Linked DNA regions of Homo sapiens: regions 2, 3 and 4 are each linked to region 1. The links come from fine-mapping of genetic effects on gene expression. A gene starts in region 1. Each other region holds a variant in brackets. All regions are shown on one strand. Distances are between the middles of the regions. Region 1 holds the start of RHPN1 (rhophilin Rho GTPase binding protein 1). Region 2 has its middle 14 kb from the start of ZFP41. Region 3 has its middle 6.9 kb from the start of TOP1MT. Region 4 overlaps TOP1MT (DNA topoisomerase I mitochondrial).

What was found. PIP is the estimated chance that this variant, and not a neighbour inherited with it, causes the effect.
Region 2: its variant is fine-mapped to the expression of RHPN1 in whole blood (TOPMed, PIP above 0.99).
Region 3: its variant is fine-mapped to the expression of RHPN1 in whole blood (TOPMed, PIP above 0.99).
Region 4: its variant is fine-mapped to the expression of RHPN1 in whole blood (GTEx, PIP above 0.99).

What each region holds. Positions count from the first base shown.
Region 1 is chr8:143,366,320-143,371,469 of GRCh38, reverse strand. It overlaps RHPN1 (rhophilin Rho GTPase binding protein 1), which reads right to left and starts at 2,594. Exons shown (of 15, transcript NM_052924.3): 1 at 2,423-2,594. The coding sequence starts at 2,482. RHPN1-AS1 (RHPN1 antisense RNA 1) reads left to right here and starts at 2,835. Exons shown (of 1, transcript NR_026785.1): 1 at 2,835-4,847. RefSeq lists enhancers at 526-1,432, 1,433-2,340, 3,081-3,636 and silencers at 2,128-2,177, 2,378-2,837, 2,848-2,917.
Region 2 is chr8:143,230,046-143,235,149 of GRCh38, reverse strand. No RefSeq gene overlaps it. Among named protein-coding and RNA genes, the nearest start is that of ZFP41, 14 kb to the left of the region's middle. The variant A/G (reference allele first, on the strand shown) is at 2,337.
Region 3 is chr8:143,339,162-143,344,311 of GRCh38, reverse strand. It overlaps a transcript of TOP1MT not described here. Among named protein-coding and RNA genes, the nearest start is that of TOP1MT, 6.9 kb to the right of the region's middle. RefSeq lists an enhancer at 4,438-5,150. The variant A/G (reference allele first, on the strand shown) is at 2,506.
Region 4 is chr8:143,329,401-143,334,550 of GRCh38, reverse strand. TOP1MT (DNA topoisomerase I mitochondrial) reads left to right here. Exons shown (of 14, transcript NM_052963.3): 2 at 3,212-3,327; 3 at 5,080-5,150. Among named protein-coding and RNA genes, the nearest start is that of TOP1MT, 2.9 kb to the left of the region's middle. RefSeq lists enhancers at 174-223, 1-447, 2,123-2,656. The variant C/T (reference allele first, on the strand shown) is at 3,088.

The sequences.
Region 1 (5,150 bases):
GCCCTGGGCCAGGCAGTCCCCAGGGAGAGGTCACCCACCTGGAGCAAACCAGCTTTTTCCCTTCAGAGCCCTGGCCCTGGGCACCCTGTATGCTGACAGCCACCCATCTCAGGTACCCCTCTCCTCTGCCCCCACTGAAGTCTCACCTGAATGCAAGAACTGGAAGCCCCAGGAGGGTGGAAGCCCAGCACCCACCTGACCCACCATCTCTGCCCCCCACTGATGAGGGAACAGAATTCAAAGGGCATTGCTGCACAGGTGTCTCCTGGGACACAGGGCTATAAGCAGCACGCACGCCAGAGGAATCATAGACTGGCCACTCACGGCAGGGACTCCCACTCTCTCTGATGCTCCCTGGGGTACCCAGGCACTGGTGCTTCCTGAGCACCCCTCTTCCTGGAGCCCAATCTACCTGGGCAGGGGCCTGGGAACCTGTAACCAGCACCCAGAGGGTGCTCCTGTCCAGCCAGGCTGGGGAACCTCAGGCTGACCCACTCGGCATGCTGGAGACCAGGTGAGGGGGGCACAGCCACCCTGCCCACCTGCTGCTCCAACGCTCTCCCTCTGCAGCCTGCTCCCCCTTCTCCCACTGGCCTCCCCAGGAAACCACAGAACCTTCTGCATACAGCCAGGCTGTATTCCTTGTGGTCCTCCCCCGGGAGCCCCTGCAGCCCCTGCGGGAGGGACGGCAGCTGGGTTGGCCACCCTGGGCCGTGCCAGGCTTCTCCCCTTCCCAGCTTGGCAGCCTTGGCCACTTACTCACCCTGTTCATCAGACGGGCTGAGGCCCAGGGCTTGGGAGGCACCAATGGCAGGACTCCAGCTGTAGCACTGGCCCTGGCACCAGGTAAGCGCTTGCTGGAAGCCTGCTCTCATCACGCCTGGGGCAAATACAAGTCACCCAGACCTGTCCACAGGGCCTCAGGCCCAGGTGTGGCCTCTAAGTGGATGAACGACCGACCCCTGACCCACTGAACTCTGAGCTTTAGGGCCAGTTTGGGGGCCAGCCTGATGGGGGTGGAACAGGCCTCACTCTAGCCCGGCAGCAGGCATCGGGGAAGACTTTCCAGATGGCAGGACAGCCTGAGTGGTGCGCGTGTGACACAGGGCCTGCCTCCGCCCCACTGCCACCTCCCACGGGCCCCTCCCCAGTACCCTGACTGTGGGGTCATTTCTGGACGCTGTGAGAGACACGGCAGCCTGGAAACAGCTTCTCCCCAACTTTCCAAGGTGGCAGCCCAGGGAGGGCCAGGACAGGGAGCCCAGGCACAGCCCCCAGCCTGAAAAGCGTCACCTCCGGAGCCCTCTGGGACATCTTGTTTGTACAGCCTCCCAAACATTCCACCCAAAACAACATGTGCCGTCCCAGGCCACCTGCAGGCATGGCCGCCCTGACAGAGCAAGTTCATAGGGGGCAGGCACAGGCTGCCTCTTTCCCTCCAGTGCCCAGGAGGTGCTGCAGCCTCTGGCACGCCTCGGGGTGGGCAAGAAGGGCGTCCTTGAGGGCTACGGTCAGCATCACCAGCCCAGTGACCTGAAGCCAAACCCTGGCTGATAGCACCGCCTCCTCCTCTAGGAGACCTAACCCCAAACACCAAAGCCGAGTAGAACCAGCCCAGGGACAACACAGTCTGACGTCCCAGAGGGGAGGAGGGCCGCGCGCTATCAAAGGCTCACCCGGGGCGAGGAGCAGGAGCAGCCCGCGGCTGAAAGCCCGTGGCGGGCGTGGGCGCCCAGGGCCTGGCAGGAGGACTGGGGCAGCCTCGAGCTGGTCCGCAGGGAACAAGCAGGCTCTGGGCTGCAGAGCAAGGCCCACAGACGTCCCCTCCTTCCCAGGCACAGACTCAGCAGGTCTCCACAGCCCTGCCCACCCCTCCCACTTGCCCAGTCAGCACCCCGGGTTAGGGACTTCAGAAGGGAAGGAGGTTTGGGAAGTGAGAAGAGGCCAGCCGGGAAGACCTCTCTCGGTTTCCCATACCCAGGAGGCTTCGCTGCCCGCTGCTACCAGTGCACCCAATGGGCATGCAGTTCCTGAGCGGATGCAGAGGGAGGACCGAACTAGGGAAGGAGGCTGTACAGGTGCCGGAAAGGAACACGATGGCGGGTGTGGGGAGGGCGCTCACAGAGCCCAGCCCCACATCCGCCCAGAAGGGGGACACGAGGAGGGCGTCCCCCCAACCCGCTTCAGCGGTGAGGATGATCCAGACTTTGGCTGTCCGCATTTCCCGGCTCACATGAGTGGCCTGGAAGCACCTCCACCGAGCTCAGAGGAGGAGGGACGCAGGCTCTGGCCTCAGTTTCCCTGCCTGCGTCCGGGCCGAATGAGACGTAGGAGGGGGGCGCCCGGAACGCGCCTCGAGGGGGGGCAGGAAAAGGCCGGGATTCCGGGCCCCTCCTCCCGCCGCCGCGCCAGTTCTGCGCACCTGCAGCCGCGGGCTCTCCTCGCCGGCGCCCGCGCCGTCCGGCCTCTCCTCCAGGATCATCGCCGCACCCGCTGCGCTGGGGGTCCCTCGGGGTCAGCCAGCCCGCCGCTCGCGCAGCGCTCCGCAGCCGGGCTAGGGCCGCCCGCACCACCTGGGCCGCGGGCTCCTGAGTGCCCGCGCCGGTCCCCGACTGTCCCTCCTGAGTGGGGGCGGCCCGCGGCGCGGCTGGGCGGGGCACGGGTCTGGCGTGCGAAGCTGGCCATTGCCCAATAGGCGGCAATGCCGCTTCGACGGACAGCTATATCAGCCAACCAGAGTTCCAGGAAGGCGGGCTCTGGACGGCCAGCTCCGCCCGCCCGCGGGACGGTAACCCCTGGCAACCGCGGCCGGAACGCCCGCGGCTGGCTGGCAGGTTGTACTGCGCATGCGCCGCGGCGGCCGCTGAGCGTGCGGGAGAAGTTCGGGAAACGGAGAAAAAAACTATACGGAACGTCCCAAGCTGAGAGTCAGGGCGGACCTGGACTCGGCGCGCCTAGCTCCTCGGCTCCCTTTGCGGGGACTCCAGGAGTCTGCCCGCTCGCGCCGTTTCGTCCTGTCACCCCGGCAACGGGACCCTCTAAGAGGCTTGTTCCAAAAATGTTCACAATGGGGTTTTTAAAAACGGTTTTGTTAGGGACAAGTGCTTGTGTGAGTCCTCCGACAATGCCTGCTTTCTTCTCTCTGCCCGCGGAGCGGAGGCTCCAGGCCTGGCCCCAGTCCGAGGCGCCTCTGTCGGTGTCGTCCTGCTTCCAAAACCGGCCTCCAGAACCCGCCTCCTTCCAGAACCTCCGTCCAGAACCCGCCTCCCTCCAGAACCTCCGTACAGAACCCACATCCTTCTAGCACCTGCCTCTGGAACCCACGTGCTTTCAGAACTACCTGTTTGTAGAACTTGTTTCCAGAACGAACCTGCTTTCCGAATCTCTTTACTTCCAGAGCTTGTTTCCTGGACTGACCTATTTTCAGAACCTACTTTCAAAACCAGCTTGCCTCCAGGACCACCTGCTTGGAGAACTGGCCTGCAGCCCCAGGACTGGACGACCTGAGACTGCACAGCTCCCTGCGGGGCTCACCCGGCTGTGTGTGTCCTTCCGGGCCTTCCATACTTCCCTAGGTGTCTGGTGACTCCGGAGCCCGCTCGGATTTCGTGTGGGTCTCGCCTCAGCTCAGAACACACCCTTTGAAGAGCAGGAAGGCCAGGGCACAGGCGGTAACCACGGCTCCTGGTCATCAAGTTCCTCTGAAGCCCAGGTCTTGTCCACGTTCACTGCCCCACCACAGGCCCAGCGGAGCCTTGGAGCTGAGCCCTGGGATCATTCTGGTGCCTGTGCTCCCGGCTCCGCAACAAGCACACAGGAGCCTGTCATCCCCAGATCTAAATCCTGAAGGCTAAGCTCCGTGGTCTGCCGCAGCCATCTGCAGCAGGCCCCTCCCAGCAACAGCCTTCTCATAAGGCCCCTGCCAGCCACGCGAAACCTCCTGGCTAGGGCCTGTCTTCCACTCCTGGCCTTTTGAGACAGGGCCTCACTCTGTTCCCCAGGCCGGAGTGCAGTGGTACGATCACAGCTCACTGCAGCCTCCACCTCCTGGGCTCATGTGATCCTCCCACCTCAGCCTCCTGAATAGCTGGGACTACAGGCTTGCACCACCACACCCGGCTAATTTTTGTATATTTTGTAGAGACAGGGTTTCGCCACATTGCCCAGGCCCAGGCTGGTCTCAAACTTCTGGGCTCAAGCAATTCATCTGCCTCAACCTCCCAAAAGTGCTGGATTACAGGGATGAGCCACCATACCCGGCTTTTTTTTTTCTTTCTCCTGGCCTTTTGGGGCCCTTGAAGTGTCTGCTCCCTGGGAGCCCTTCAGCTTGTCGTCCACTTGGTGGGTTCCCACCCGTCCTTCTCACTTCTGCCTGAATCACACAGGCTACATGAGACCTTCACCCACCCCCTTCGCCAGCAGCTCTGTGGTTCAAGTTTCCTCAAGGTTAGGGGCTCCTGGCCATCTTACCTGTGGGCCTGAGCATGGGCCGATGCTTCCAAAGTTCACACTGGGTGCACTTGTGTGGGGACTTCCATGTGAGTCATCTCCTTGCAGGCTGCCAAGGTCCTGTACAGCAGAGACCCAAACCCTCTTAGCAGTCTTCAGAGTCAGCTATGTGTACAGGAGGCATTACCATATCAGTGACTGTCAGCAAGCATGTGTGACTGAAATGGTATCCAGTTCTTACGTATTTGTTTTGCAGGCTTCTTGGTTCAGCAGACAGAGGCCATTGGGAAGTTAAGAGAGGCTCTCAAACTTTGAGGGTCATAAGACTTCCCCTCCCTGCAGGGTGCTGTTTCCTGAAGGAAAATATTCAATTACTATTTTCTTTATTTATTTATTGAGATGGAGTCTTGCTCTTGTCGCCCAGGCTGGAGTGTGTGCGTGTGCGTGTGTGCGTGTGCGTGTGTGTGCGTGCATATGTGCGTGTGTGCGTGTGTGTGTGTGTGTGTGTGTGTTGGAGGGGGGTGGTGCTGCCTTTTTCTTTGCATGCTTCTGTGTTACTGGATTTGGCACAGCAAGAATGTATCACTGCACTCAAAAAATTTAGAGTTTCCTTTTTGTTTTTTTAAATTATTTTAGATTTGGAGGTACATGTGTGGGTTTGTTACATGTGTATTGTGCACTTCTGAAGTTTAAAAATTTAG
Region 2 (5,104 bases), 140 kb after region 1:
TTTACAGATGAAGAACCACGGCTCAGAGAGGGCAGGGGACCAGGCTGATTTGCACAACAAGTAAGCTGTTGAGCCAGCATTGGACATCAGCCCACCTGGCCCTGGAGACCAGTGCTGCCTCATGATTCTCCAAGGCAGAGACCATCCTGAGTATGGTGCATGGCCAAGGCCTTGTCCACACCTGTTCTGTGCAGCTGGCAGAGGTTGGAAGGCCACTGTGCATGATGAAGCACAGATGGCCCCACCATGTTGAGGGGGCTGTGGGTAGGGTTGAGTGTGTGGACCCAGGAGCCAGGCCACCTGTGCTTAGATCCCAGAACTGCCTCAGAATTGCTGTCTGGTCCTGGGCAAGGCACTTAGCCTTCCTGTGCCTCAGTTTCCTCATCTGTAAGATGGGAGTGATGAAGGTCACAGTCATCTCCTCTCAGGGATGTGAAGAGGTCTGTTCTAAGATTATTTTTGTCATAGCTATTATGCTCCTTGGAATCCTCAGCGGGGGTGAGCTGTGATCTTGAGCCAACCAAGCTGCACTGCCCTGGGTCCAGGGAGCCAGCGGGGAAGATACGAGAGTCCAGTGTCTGTAGGGAAGGCAGACACCTGGCCTCATAGTGCCGAGGCCGCCCACATCACAGTCCGGGAGAGACGGGATCCTGGGTAGAAGAGACCTGGGCCCAGGAAGAGATAGACCCGAACCACAGTGCTGGGGGGAGGGTTATATGAGTCCGCCAGAGGTCTCAGCACTGGGGTGCATCACTGTGGAGGAGTGTGGTCAATAGGCAGGGGGTGACTGGACCAGGGCCCCCAGCACCTGAGGGAGGTCTGTGTGATACTAGGGTTTGTGTGTGGCTTTGGGACTGATTTACGAGACAACTCAGCACATGGTTAAGACAGAGCTGCTGTGGCCCTGGTGGTTGTGCAGCGCTGGCTGGGGGTCCCTTGGGAGTGTGTGACGGTGGACCTCACGGATGCCTGACCTTCACTGCACACTCATGTGCACCCAGGGCCCTCAGTTGTAGCTGCTGTCATGGCACAGAGGGAGAACTGGAGCAGCGCGCCCACCTAAAGTGCATGCCAGGAACATGGCAGATCGAAGCCCAGTCTGTCTGGCCTCATGGCCCCAGGGTGTGAGGGCAGAGCATGAAGGTGGATGGCCACAGGGAGGAGAACCCAGCAGCCGGCGTACAGGATCCGCACTGGCTGGGCACTGTCTCGGCCTTTCGTGCGTCCTCCCTGTGTCCAGAGCTGGCCTTCCTGTGGTGGTACCAGGCACACCCTATCCGCTGGGTGCTCATGAAGCTGGTGGCCTGGGCGCCTTCAGGGAAACAGAGGGGAGGGTACCCAGGTTTTCCCACACTAGTTGAAACCAGTCAGTACATACCTATCTTCTGTTTTCTGCAGGGTTTGAGCAAGGGCTGTGCCAAAACACACAATAAAACCAAACCAAACCCAAACTACGACAACATGGCTGGGCACTGTGGCTCATGCCTGTGATGCCAGCACTTTAGGAGGCCAAGGCGGGAGGATCACTTGCACTCAGGAGTGTGAGACCATTCTGGGCAACACAGCGAGACTGTCTCTACAAAAAACACCAAAAAATTAGCTGGGTGTGGTTGTGCGTGCCTGTGGTCCCGGCTACTTGGGAGGCTGAGGTGGGAGGATGGCTTGAGCCTGAGAGGTCGAGGCGGCAGTCAGCCGAGATCACGCCACTGCACTCCCACCTGGGTGGGAAGGTGAGTCCCTGTCTCTGGAAAAAAAAAAAAAAAAGAAAAAGAAAAAAAACAAAACAACAACAATAGCAAAACAGCACACAACCAGCTTTGTTCACACGGAGCTCAATCACCTTGACTTTTCTTCCAAGCCGACTCAGCCTTGAGCTCTCAGTCCCTCACATTCTGCCCACCCCTGGGTCTCCTGGGCCTCAATCCTGACATGTGAGCAAGGGCCTCCTTCTCTCTCTGTTTTTTTTTGAGACAGGGTCTCCCTCTGTCACCCAGGCTGGAGTGCAGTGGCGTGATCTTGGCTCACTGCAACGTCCACTTCTTGGTTCAAGTGATTCTCCTGCCTCAGCCTCCCAAGTAGCTGGGATTACAGGTGCCCACCACCACGCCTGGCTAATTTGTGTATTTTTAGTAGAGACCGGGTTTCACCATGTTGGCCAGGCTGGTCTTGATCTCCTGACCTCAGGTGATCTGTCCACCTTGGCCTTCCAAAGTGCTGAGATAACAGTCGTGAGCCACCGTGCCTGGCCAAGGGCCTCCCTCTCTAGGGGGCAGAAGGGCTGGGGCCTGTGCGCCCCCCAGCATGTTCCCACTCCATGACAGGCCCTCCCTCCAGGG[A/G]AGATCTTCAGTGCCCAGGGAGGGCTGATCTGCGCAGAGCCTTCCATGCTCCCTGCCACAGCTTCCCCGCACTGGGCTCCAGGGGTCCGGTGAGCACCTGGCACCCAATTCTCCCCAGGACGCCCACAGGCTCTCCCTCCAGCGGGGCTCCCTGACGCTTCGGACACCTGCTTTTATTAAAAATAGTCTGCCTTTAGTTTTTTAAAAATATTTTATTTTATTTTATGTTTTTTGAGATGGAGTCTCGCTCTGTCACCCAGGCTGGAGTGCAGTGGCGCGATCTCGGCTCACTGCAAGCTCCGCCTCCCAGGTTCATTCCATTCTCCTGCCTCAGCCTCCCAAGTAGCTGGGACTACAGGAGCCTGCCACCATGCCCGGCTAATTTTTTTGTATTTTTAGTCTAGACGGGGTTTCAGCGTGTTAGCCAGGATGGTCTCGATCTCCTGACCTCGTGATCTGCCCGTCTTGGCCTCCCAAAGTGCTGGGATTACAGGCATGAGCCACCATGCCCAGCCGCCTTTAGTTTTCAATTAAAAATTGTAATGAGGTCATTGTCGATTCACATATGGTTGTAAGAAATAACAGAGAGACATTCATTATATGCTTCGCTCGGTTTCTTCCAAGGGTAACCTTTTCTTTCTTTCTTTTTTTTTTTTTTTTGAGATGGAGTCTCACTCTGTTGCCTAGGCTGGAGTGCAGTGGCATGATCTCAGCTAACTGCAGCCTTTGCCTCCTGGGTTCAAGCTATTCTCCTGCCTCAGCCTCCCAAGTAGCTGGGATTACAGGTGCCTGCCACCACGCCTGGCTAATTTTTTTTTTTTTTTTGTATTTTTAGTAGAGATAGGGTTTCACTACATTGGCCAGGCTGGTCTTGAACTCCTGACCTCAGGTGATCCACTGGCCTTGGCCTCCCAAAGTGCTGGGATTACAGGCGTGCGCTACCGTGCCCAACCCAAGGCTATCATTTTGCATAACTTGGTGCAATATTACACCCTCCGCTGTGGGGAGGGGCATCTGGGAGCCCCTGTGGCCACTCATTGGTTCTCTCCATTTCCAGAATTGTGGCTGCAGGGAGCTGTGCAGAGGAAGTTGTCCTGGAGGCCGCCTGTTGAGAGGCCACTTTCACTCCGGAGAGTCTCTGTAGTTCCCCCTGGCGGCTATGCCATTCAGCGGCACCGCCTTCCTGTGGCTGGGCTGTCTCCCCTGGTGCCCATGGAACCAGCTGAACCCTTTGCCATTGAAGGACATCTGGGCTGCTTCCCAGGTTTTGCCTAAAACAAGTAAAGCTGCTGTGAACACTCATGAGCAGGTTTTTGTATGAACATGACTTTCATTTCTCTGGGGCGCATCAGGGGGTCGTGGGAGTTGCGTGTCTAGTTTGATAAGAAACAGCCAAGCTGTCTTCCAGAGCGGCTGCTCCATCGTCCACTCCCAGCAGCAGCAGGTAGGTGACCCAGCTTCTCTGCCTCCCCATCAACATGTGGGGTGGTCATGGTTTATTTATTTATTTATTTGATTTATTTTTATTTTTTCAGATGGAGCGTCTCTCTGTCACTCAGGCTGGAGTGCAATGGTGTGATCTCGGCTCACTGCATAATCCACCTTCTGGGTTCAAGCAATTCTTCTGCCTTAGCTTTCTGAGTAGCTGGGATTACAGGAGCGCACAACCACACCTGGCTGATTTTTATATTTTTAGTAGAGACAGGGTTTCACCATGTTGGCCAGACTGGTCTCAAACTCCTGACCTCAAGTGATCCTCCTGCTTTGGCCTCCCAAAGTGCTGGTATTACAGGCTTGAGCCACCGCATCCAGCAACAGTTTATTTTTTATTTAGCCGTTCTGATAGGTGTATAATGAGATCTCACCGTGAATTTTTTGTTTGTTTAGAAACAGGGTTTGCTATGTTGCCCAGTCTGATCTTGAACTTTGGGGCTCAAGTGATACACCCCCCTCGGCCTCCCAAAGTCCTGGGATGACATGAGTGAGCCATCGCTGCAGCCTCACCGTGGTTCTAGTGTCGGAACGCTGAGGGTGCGTGGTGTCGAACATCTGTTCCTGTGCACGTTTGCCTTCTGCGTGTCCTCGTCAGGGAAATAGCTCTTTACGTCGTTTGTCCATGTTGTAAGTGGGTTGTTTTTGTGCTGTTGAATTTTGAGATACGTTGTGAATAGATCGTAGATTCCAGTCCATTGTCCGCTATGCAGTTTGCAAACATTTTCTCCCAGTCTGTAGTTTGTCTTTCCTTCCTCTTCCCTGGGTCTTTTGTGGAGAAGTTTTTATGTCGAGGAGGTTGTCCTCTGCTGGGTTCCTACCCTCCTCTTGTTCATGGGATGCCCCAGCCGGGAGCTGGGTCCAGGCTTCCTGCACCACCAAAGCGGCAGTGAAAGGGCTCACCCCCGTGAGGTCTCTGCTGCTGGAAGCCTGAGTGTCAGGCAGCGCTCCCACCTCCTGATGTCTGGAAGCCCCTGCACCCCGCGGTATCCAGCATGGAACTAGCTGAACCCCCTTCCCCTCCCACCTGCAGACCCTAGAGGGCAGGAAGCCTTGGCTGTGCCCTGGTCTGAGGCCAGCCTGAAGGTGCATGACCTGCTTCCATGACAGGAGCTGGGGACGCCTCTCTCCTCTGGAAAGGTCCCAATACGGGCATCTCCTGTCAGGGACCTGGGTGCAGGAGCGGTGGCCTCGCCCTGCTTCCTGCAGAGCTGACCCATCCCGGTGACCATTAGCTTCTGCAGACCTCAGTGGTCTCAGGAAAGCGTCCCTAGGGT
Region 3 (5,150 bases), 27 kb after region 1:
CTCCCACGGCTTCCCTGTGGGACTCTAGGCCTCTGCAGTCAGCACATCCTGAGAGGACCGTGGGTGTCTGCTGCCCTTCCCTCCCTAGTCCTCTCGTTTCGGTGAAGCGGCTCCTTCTGTCTTCTCAAGCACAGACCTTGGTGTCATCTTTGAGGGCCCCATCCTTGAGGGCCTAGATTCCACATGAAATCCATCTATGAATCCTGCTTTCCAGCTGTGTTACAACAGGGCCTCCTCTCACCTTTCTCGGCTGGCCCAGGCCTCTGCCTCAGTAGGGCTCTAACATGATTTTCAGAAATCTCACAGGTTTTTCCTTGCAAGACGCGTGTTTCACTGTGTCTCCAGTCTGCATGGATGTGGGCGTGTGTTGTGATGGTCAGATGGTGGAGTGAGAGCAGCCATAGTGTGAGGTGTGGGTGAGGGTGGCCAGTCAGCCGATGAGTGGGAGCGTTCAGACCGGGGTGCCTGGTGCCCCCATAACCTCCTCGGGGTTCCCAGGGATGGCGCCTCTGACCCAGCGTGCAGCCCGAGGTGGGCCCCGTGCCATTCCCACTTAAGCGAAGTGTCTGTTCCTCTCTCTGTTCAATGTGGGTTTTGTTTCTGAATATATTTTCTCACACTTCTTCTTCAAAAGTTACTTTGGAAAGACTGTTTTTCCAAATTGATGATCTCTGAACTGCTGTGGTGTTGGTGGGGACAGAGATGGTCCCAGAGGGGACCTGGGAGCTGCCTTTTACTGCCTGCCCACTCTTCCCGAGGCCGGGAGGGGCCTGAGATGTGTTCGCAGCTTCTGGCCTCGGGCGGGACTTCCCACCGCCAGCTGGTGCTGTGCTCAGAGTCAGAGGTTCCTTGATGCCCAGCACGTGGGTCACCAGCAGCTTTGCCAGGTGTACTTTTGAAAAATGAGAAAAGGGTCATGAAGAGCTTGGGAGGCTTCCATGAGGTTGTTCTGACTCTCTGTTGTTAGAATGGCAACCCTAAATGAGCCGCAGAGCTGCATGTTTATGTATACATTTGAATTCTAGATTTGCACAGATCACCACGCCAGTGAAGACTAATCACCATGAAAAGCCACCCAAGAAAAAAGGCCAAGTCGGCATCTTAAATAGGAAATGAATGTGTGAACATGATTCTGATAAGCAACTTCCCAGGCACTCATGCCTGATGAATGCTTATTCTTGCAGATATGACAACACAAATGAACTTAGTGTCTGATTTTCTTCTAAGATTTTATGGTGAAATAAGTTAGCAGGCCAGGCGTGGTGGCTCATGCCTATAATCCTAGCACTTTGGGAGGCGGAGGTGGGTGGGTCACCTGAGGTCAGGAATTTGAGACCAGCCTGTCCAACATGATGAAACCCCCTCTCTACTAAAAATACAAAATTAGCCGGGTGTGGTGGTCGGGAGGCTGAGGCAGGAGAATCGCTTGAACCCGGGAGGCAGAGGTTGCAGTGAGCCGAGATCACGCCACTGCACTCCAGCCTGGGTGACAGAGCGAGACTCTGTCTCTAATAATAATAATAATAATAATAATAGAGCAAGACTCTGTCTCTAATAATAATAACAGAGCGAGACTCTGTCTCTAATAATAATAATAACAGCGAGACTCTGTCTCTAATAATAATAATAATAATAGAGCGAGACTGTCTCTAATAATAATAATAATAATAGAGCGAGACTGTCTCTAATAATAATAATAATAACAGCGAGACTCTGTCTCTAATAATAATAATAACAGAGCGAGACTCTGTCTCTAATAATAATAATAATAACAGAGCGAGACTCTGTCTCTAATAATAATAATAATAACAGCGAGACTCTGTCTCTAATAATAATAATAATAACAGAGCGAGACTCTGTCTCTAATAATAATAATAATAACAGAGCGAGACTCTGTCTCTAATAATAATAATAATAACAGCGAGGCTCTGTCTCTAATAATAATAACAGAGCGAGACTCTGTCTCTAATAATAATAATAACAGCGAGACTCTGTCTCTAATAATAATAATAATAACAGCGAGACTCTGTCTCTAATAATAATAATAACAGAGCGAGACTCTGTCTCTAATAATAATAATAATAGAGCGAGACTCTGTCTCTAATAATAATAATAACAGCGAGACTGTCTCTAATAATAACAGAGCGAGACTCTGTCTCTAATAATAATAATAATAACAGAGCGAGACTGTGTCTCTAATAATAATAACAGAGCGAGACTCTAATAATAATAATAACAGAGCGAGACTCTGTCTCTAATAATAATAATAACAGCGAGACTCTGTCTCTAATATAATAACAGAGCGAGACTCTGTCTCTAATAATAATAATAACAGCGAGACTCTGTCTCTAATAATAATAATAACAGAGCGAGACTCTGTCTCAATAATAATAATAATAACAGAGTGAGACTCTGTCGCTAATAAGAAGAAGAAGAAGGGGGAGGAGAAAGAGGAAGGAGGAGGAGGAGGAAGAAGAGGAAGAAGAAGGAAGAAGGAAGCACTAG[A/G]TGGGGCAGTGGTGTCGGGATAGTGCTCTGTGACCTTCCCTTTCTGGTGTTTTGTGTCTGGGTCAGGGTGGACGCTGGCAGTATGGCCTGTTGCGGCCTGCACCTGCTCCGGAGTTGGGAGCAGCCCCAAGCTGACCCCTGGCTCCTTTGTTCATTGCCCTTGGTTTCTGCTCCTGACAGAGGCCACAAGGGCTGAGATCAAGAGGCCATTTTCCAAAGCTGAGTTAAAAGCATCTGTTAGGCCCATGGAGGGCAGCCATTGCTGGGGTGGGGAAGGTGAACCTTCCCTCCTCCTCTGGGGTCTCCGGGTGGGTATGTTTGTGGCCCTGTGGCCCCTCTCATGGTGTGTGCTCTCTGTTCTGGGCAAGGTCCCAAGGCCACACGGAGGTTCCTGCAGACAAGATGAAGATGGCCCTTGGTGGATGTGCCCGGGGTCCTGACACCCAAGAGAAGAGATAGAAGGGCATGGCCCTGCAGGCGGTGCCCAGCCGGAAGGGGGCTCTGGAAGAGGACCTGGACTGTGAGCTCACAGACACTGGCCGGGGCAAGGGCTGTGTGGAAGAGAGGCACAAACTGAGAAAAAAAAAAGAATATCCGAAGAGAAAGGGGAGAAAGGGCTTCAGGACAAACGTGTGGGGAGATGCACTGGGGCGGCAGCACGAGAAGAGGGTGGCGGGGACGCTAGGGGCAAGCCTGAGACCCTCAGCTGTGGGGAGCGGAAGAGTGCAGGGGCCGCCGTGGGAGCTGGGGAGGAGCGCGCTCTGGGCAGTGGGATAGACAGAGCAGTTCCCACAGAAGAGGTGCGAAGCGTGGCCAGGAGCAGGTGCACAGTGAGGGCATGGTGCCCACCCCAGCACGGAGGACGAGCCAGGGCCACACTGAGCAGAAAGGAGAGTTACGGGCCAGGAGACAAGCACAGAACGAGGACGAGGATGTAAAAGAAGTGTGGGTGGGAAAAACCAAGAAAGAAGAAAGTGACAAATTAGGTAGTGGCACAAAAGTGGGACAGGAGGCCTTGGTTTCCAGAAAAGAAAAGAAGAGGGAGACAGACAAAGCTGGGGAAGAGGGGACTCGAAAACCAAAGAAATGAAAAGCTCAGGACCTGGAGGAAGACAGAGAAGTGCAGTGTGGGAGTGAGCTGGACGGGGCACCACAGCCAGCGGCGTGGCCTCGCCATTGCCCTGGGGCAAAGGGTGACTGGGAGGTGGGGGGCCTGGTGAAGAAGCCCCAAGAAGAGAAAGCTCAGGGCAGCCGGAAGCCAGCCAGAAGCAGAGAGAAGTGGAAGGAGGGGGAGCCAGTTGATGCTGGGGTGTCCAGAGGGAGAGAAGAAAGATGGCCAGGAGGCAGCTAAGCCACAGGAGGAGAGCCAGAAAGGGTGGGAGAAGGCCGAAGGCAGCAGGTGGAAATGGTGTGTACCCTACCCCACCCCTTCTCTCCCTCCATGTCCTGACGGGGTGGTGGGAATGCTGTGTAGACCAGTGCTGGGAGGGGGGGAATGCTGTGCAGACCGGTGCTGGGAGGGGGGAATGCTGTGTAGACCAGTGCTGGGAGTGTGGGAATGCTGTGTAGACCAGTGCTGGGAGGGGGGGAATGCTGTGTAGACCAGTGCTGGGAGTGGGGGAATGCTGTGTAGACCAGTGCTGGGAGTGGGGGAATGCTGTGTAGACCAGTGCTGGGAGTGGGGGAATGCTGTGTAGACCAGTGCTGGGAGTGGGGGAATGCTGTGTAGACCAGTGCTGGGACGGGGGAATGCTGTGTAGACCAGTGCTGGGACGGGGGAATGCTGTGTAGACCAGTGCTGGGAGTGGGGGAATGCTGTGTAGACCAGTGCTGGGACGGGGGAATGCTGTGTAGACCAGTGCTGGGAGTGGGGTAATGCTGTGTAGACCAGTGCTGGGACGGGGGGAATGCTGTGTAGACCAGTGCTGGGAGTGGGGGAATGCTGTGTAGACCAGTGCTGGGACGGGGGGAATGCTGTGTAGACCAGTGCTGGCAGGGGTGGAATGCTGTGTAGATCAGCGCTGGGAGCAGGGGAATGCAGTTTAGACCAGCACAGGCCCACTTCCCCTCCCTGTCCCTGGTGGGGGAGGCGGGGAGTGCTGTGTAGACCAGTGCTGGGAATGTGGGAATGCTACAGTGCTGGCCTTTGCCTGCCCACTGTAGGTTGCCAGGGAGCCTGGGTGCCCCCCAGAGTGCCCTCTTGCATCGGCAGCTTTGAGCTGTGGGTTGTAGGGTACTGGGAGCAGCCAGCAGTAAGTGAGTGTTTGCTGTGTGTCTGGCATTGCTTTTGGTCAGTCCTCTATGAAGTAGGTACTGCTATGTCCATTTTTCAGATGAGGAAACTGAGGTACAAAAAGGTTAAGTAACCGGGCCAAGGTCACATGGCCACAAGTGGGCCACACTGCAGTTGTAGCCGTCACCCCTGCTGTGTCCTGTACGCAGCCACGAGCTGCGCAGCTCTCCCAGTGGAGACGTGCTGGGGGTGTGATACGCACGCCTGCTTTGAGAAGAACGATGCATACCATCGCATTAGCATATTATGTTGAATGACAGTATTTTGGTTGAAATAGTTGAAATTAAGTATATTGTTAAGGTCAAAGTCACTGTTTCTTTTGCAGTGTGGCTTCTGGATGGGGTAAACTCCA
Region 4 (5,150 bases), 37 kb after region 1:
TGACGTCGCCCTTGCTTCCCCAGGCACCACCCCACCAACCCTATTTGGGGAAATCTCCCCTCTTTTTTTCCGCTTGTGGTTTCATCATTTGTGTAGCTGTGCCTGGGCCTCAACACTGTAGGGTTTGGTTAGGTACTTTATAAAAAGCTTATGTTGCTGTGCATGGTCTTCTGAGACCCGCTCTTTCCTGGAGTCGGTTCCCGGGTTGTCTCCAGGACCGATTCTGCATGGCGGCGGGCGCTCACTGTCATATCTACATCACCAGGCACAAGCCGCATGGATCCAGTGGCCCTGGTGGCCGTTGGTGGTCCCAGGCGCTTTCCTGGAGGACATGTGAGAAGCCCTGCCGGCGCATACTGGGCCTGGGGTAGCCGCATGGGGATGGGTCTCTGCGCATGAAATGCTGGAGTTTCCGAAGAGCTGGAGAGTTGACAGCCTCACTGGTGCGTGGGAGATCCTGCAGGAGTTCCCGCCAGGTCTCGCGGTTTATCATCATTCACTTAGTGCTTCCAGCGTGGCATGTCTCTGTGACCTGGTGGTGCGCTATCAGCATACCCATTCACAGCTGAGGGCCTGCACAGCTGCCTAAGGCCATGCTGCAGAAATGTCCTGTCTGCCTGCAGGAGCTTGGGACCCAAAGAGAGCCCCAGATGGGGCAGGGTGTCTTGGGAGGAGGGAGTTCTGGCCTGCGCTTGGAGCTGGGGCTGGCTGTGGGCCCTGCATTGAGGCACATCTCTCCGAGGGTGCACAGGCAGGTAGGTGCTTTCCAAAAAGTGCTGCTGAGCTGCAGTCGCCCAGGTGGACAGGTGGGTTTGGAGCAAGGTCTCTGGCTTTGAAAGCCAGCTTGTGTCTGATGGTGGTGCTTGGTGCCCTGGTCTCTGCAGGGGTGAAAGAATGTCACTACAATGTGCAGCCCTCAGTTGGGCTTGAGCGCACACCCAGTGGTGCAGCCCTGCCTGGCCGCTGGCCGGCAGGTTGTTTCACCTCAGTGTCTTCATCTGTGAAATGAGACTGGTGATGTGACTACCCTAGAGGCTTTGTGAAGGACTTGGCAGTCAGGGTCACTGTCAGTTCTTTATTTTTATTTTTATTATTATTATTTGAGACAAAATCTTGCCCTGTCACCCAGGCTGGAGTGCAGTGGTGCAATTTCAACTCACTGCAACCTCTGCCTCCTGGGTTCAAGTGATTCTCCTGCTTCAGCCTCCTTGAGTAGCTGGGATTACAGGCACCCGCCACCACGCCTAGCTAATTTTTGTATTTTTAGTAGAGACGGGGGTTTTGCCATGTTGGCCAGGCGGGTCTCGAACTCCTGGCCTCAAGTGATCCGCCCGCCTCGGCCTCCCAAAGTGCTGGTATTACAGGCGTGAGTCACCGCGCCTGGCTCCTATCAGTTAGTTCCGAGATACACGTGGTTTCCCATTTTCTCACACCCGACATGATCCATCTTCCCTTATTCTCTAAGAAGGCGTTGTCTAGGTTTGCATCCTTCAGGGCACTTAGTGGTGCAGCCTCCTACCAGCCCCACCCTAGACATGCTGTATCAGGGCTGGTGGGCTCTCTTGAACTCCTAAAACCTGTAAGAAAGGTGAGGCTGGTCTCACCTGACGTGGAAAAGCTCTGCAGAGTCAGCAGAACCCCCCTCTCCCCGAGTCTCCCTCCAGACTCCAGCTGCCTGCAGCATCTGCCAGCTAGTTTTTTTGTACTTTCGCCATGTTGGCCAGGCTGGCCTTGAGCTCCTGAGCCTGCCTCAGCCTCCCAAAGTGCTGGGATCACAGGCGTGAGCCACCACGCCCGGCTCCACCCTGGAAGGTTCTTGAGCCCGTTAACTTCTCCCTACTTTATCAGCTCCGTCTCTACGTCTTCTAACCTTGCCCATTCCCTCCTCTGCAGAAACAGCCAGAAAGGCCCTTTCAGAAATGTCTGTTGCACATGCTTTCCCCTCTCAGACCCTTCAGAGACTTCCTGTTGCTCTGAGGACACTCATCCCAGCCGACCAGGCCCACCAGGCCCCCAACAGCACTACCTGGCTGGGGTCACGTGCAGGTCTCCTGGCTCTGGCAGGTGGGGGTGTGATCTGGAACCTTCTGTCCTTGTGCGTCTGGGGGAGGCTCAGAAGGTGTGCCCATCTCACTCTCCCCCATCCTGATGGTGCTCCCACCCTCTCGCCAAAGCCTCTCCCACTGAGGCCTTTGCACTGGCCATCCTGGGTGCTGGACTTGCTCTTCCCGCAGCCCTGCTGACCGAGCCTGCCCACTGCCTGCCAGCCACGCCCCATCTCGCTCCTCTTCTCCCAGGCCCATCTCAGAATCTAGGTTCAGTTGAGCCCTTCGTATGGGTTTTGGTGATCTGCATCCGCAGGACCCAGCGCAGTGCTGGTTCAGGGCAGGCTTGGGCTTGCCTCAATGGATAGATGATGACTGGCCTGGAGAGTTAGGATGGGCTGTAGCCGCCACGCTGGCTGTGTCCCCCCACCCCCTCCAACACCCCCCCAATCTCCAGAGCTGGGCTTGCCAGAAGGGGGCGCCCTGGGGAGGGGGACCTTGGCAGGGAGCCCTGTGGAGCCTCACTGTGTTAGTGCCTTACAAAAGGAGCCCTTCCCTGAAAACCCCTGAGGCTTCTGGCTTCAGGGCCTCCCCTCCCTGCCCCGCCTCCTCCACCCCGCCCTGCCTCTTCCACCCTTCCACCCTGCCCGATCCTCTGTGGGCGGCGGTCCTGCGCCCTGCTGTGGTGCCTCTCCACTGGCTGCACTGCTGGACCCCCTTCCACCCAGCTCCTCGGAGGCAGGGCTCTCTCATAAGCAGCCAGGTCCTTTATTTAGCAAATGAAATGGTCCCATGGAGAGGTTCCCGAAGATTCTAGACCGGCTCTGAAGGGACCCATCTGGGGAGAGGCCCTAGAGCCTGGGAGAGGCACGTTGCCTTTCCCACTTAGCTGGGCTTGCCCTTTCCCGCTTAGCTGGGCTTGGTGGGATCCGTGACTCAGCAGCACACGGGCCTCTGCAGGTGGGGGGCATGGGCGGGTACACGGGCATGGGGTCTGAGGTCAGGTAGGGTTGCCTCCCTCTGCAGGCCTTGTTTTCCTCCC[C/T]CGTGAGGTGGAGGCCACACTGCTCACCTGCTAGGAGCCACAGGGAGGAGCCACTGTGGGAGCGGGGAAGAGGCTCATGCAGGGCCTGGCCCAGGAGAGTGACACGTCCTGTCTCCGTCTTTAGGTGGGAGAAGGAGAAGCACGAAGACGGGGTGAAGTGGAGACAGCTGGAGCACAAGGGCCCGTACTTCGCACCCCCATACGAGCCCCTTCCCGACGGAGTGCGTTTCTTCTATGAAGGTAAGGATGCAGGGAGCGGCTCCTCCCCAGCCTGCGCTTGGTTCCCTGGGCGTGGGCTCCCAGTGGGCATCTGGCTCGCTCCCTCAGCCCCCCTGCAGGCTTCTGGCTATGAGCGCTCTGTGCCCTCTTCTTGCAGGTGATGCGTGGGGGCTGCTGACCAACTGACCCATGCTCAGAGGGTGGCAGTTCGGGGGCTCCCGTCCCTGCCTTTCCTGCTGAGCCTGCACTGGCTGTGCCTGTTGTGTCCAGGACCCTCTGGGCAAAGCGGACCCCCCCTCCCTCCCCCCGCACCACTGTGTTCCCTGTGTGTTCTGAGTATACACAGTACGTACACTGCGTGTACACACATGGATCACAGAACGGTCACTTGACCCCAGCTTGTGATTCTCAGCAAGAAGCGGAGCCCGTGGTTGACATGAGCGCTGAGCCACCCTCAGAGGCAGGACCCGGGGGCTCTGGGGCAGCAGGGCCCACACACCCCTCCTGCCCTTGAGCCCTCCTCTCTACCCCAGGGCCCAGGAGCTTTGGCTTGGCTCTTGTGCTGCTGATTTTAGCTGCTTCAGCCTATTTTCTTCATCTCTGCTAGAAGGCATCCTTCTAAGAAAAGCAAACCTCTTCTCCCCCAGGGCAGGCCCCCACGCCATGCTGTGCCCCTCCCACCAGCCCTCCCGTGGGCCCCCTGCCGAGTCACATGCACACCTGAGTTTGCTGAGCTCCTTTGATGCAATGTTTTGTTCAAAGCCTGTTTCTCCAAAGCGGTACTGGAGCTTCCACAGGGACAGAGGTTCTAGCTGTGTCTGTGGGGGCTGCCCACGGGAGGCCATGGGACCTTACTGAGCGTCTCGCGCTGTGCCCCTGGCCTGGTGTAGCGGCTGCCTCGCCTGCCCCACAGCAGCCCTGCAGGACCTCCCTGGCCAGGAGGGACATGGCAGGCGAGGACTGCTTATGCAGGGCCATGGTGGACAGTCCGGGGAGTGGTGGTGTCGCGTGGGGCCCAGTGGGGCCGAGCCTCCACAGAGGGGCAGTGGGAGCTGAGCCCCTCGGGCCTGTGCTGCTGGTCTCTGGGCCTCTCGTCCTCTGTCCTGAGAAGCTAGTTTGGGGAAGGATTGCTGCTGTTTATCAGAAATGCCTTCCTCCTTCTTACCAAATGATTATGCATTTATTTCTCTAAAATTTTCTTATGAAAGCTTTTCAGACGTGCAGTTGAAAGAATTCCTGGTGAACACCCTCGTTCCCACCACGAGCCTCTCACTCTGCTCGCCTGCTCCCAGCTCACCCCCCATCTCTAAACCACACTGATCTTAGAATAAAATGCAGGGAATGGTGGGACAGAGGCCGCAGAGTTGTAAAAGGGTACACCTAGTTATTCAGTTTTCTGCTTTGAAGCCTTAACTTTTATTTTACTTGTGAAATTTTGTGGAAATTGGTGTGTTTTAAAATTGTACATGTTCCATTTTCATGTAATATAAATGTAGTAGCAACGTTAAGTGGTAAAGGAGGAGAAAGCAGTAGCGCCTGAAATCTTCTGCAGCTTTCTCACGACCCGCTCCCAGATCACTGTGGTCGCCACCTCCACGCAGGTTGATTGTCGTGTGTCATGCAGAACATGCTTCTGAACTTACAGAAGAAGGCCTAGCTTCTTGCTCTTGGCATAGTACGCACGAAAGCGTAGTTTAAAGCAATGAGGTCATGTCAGCTGGAGGCCGAGCCTCTGGCCGCTCTCTCATACGATGTGTCTTCCGATGCCTGCAGGAAGGCCTGTGAGATTGAGCGTGGCAGCGGAGGAGGTCGCCACTTTTTATGGGAGGATGTTAGATCATGAA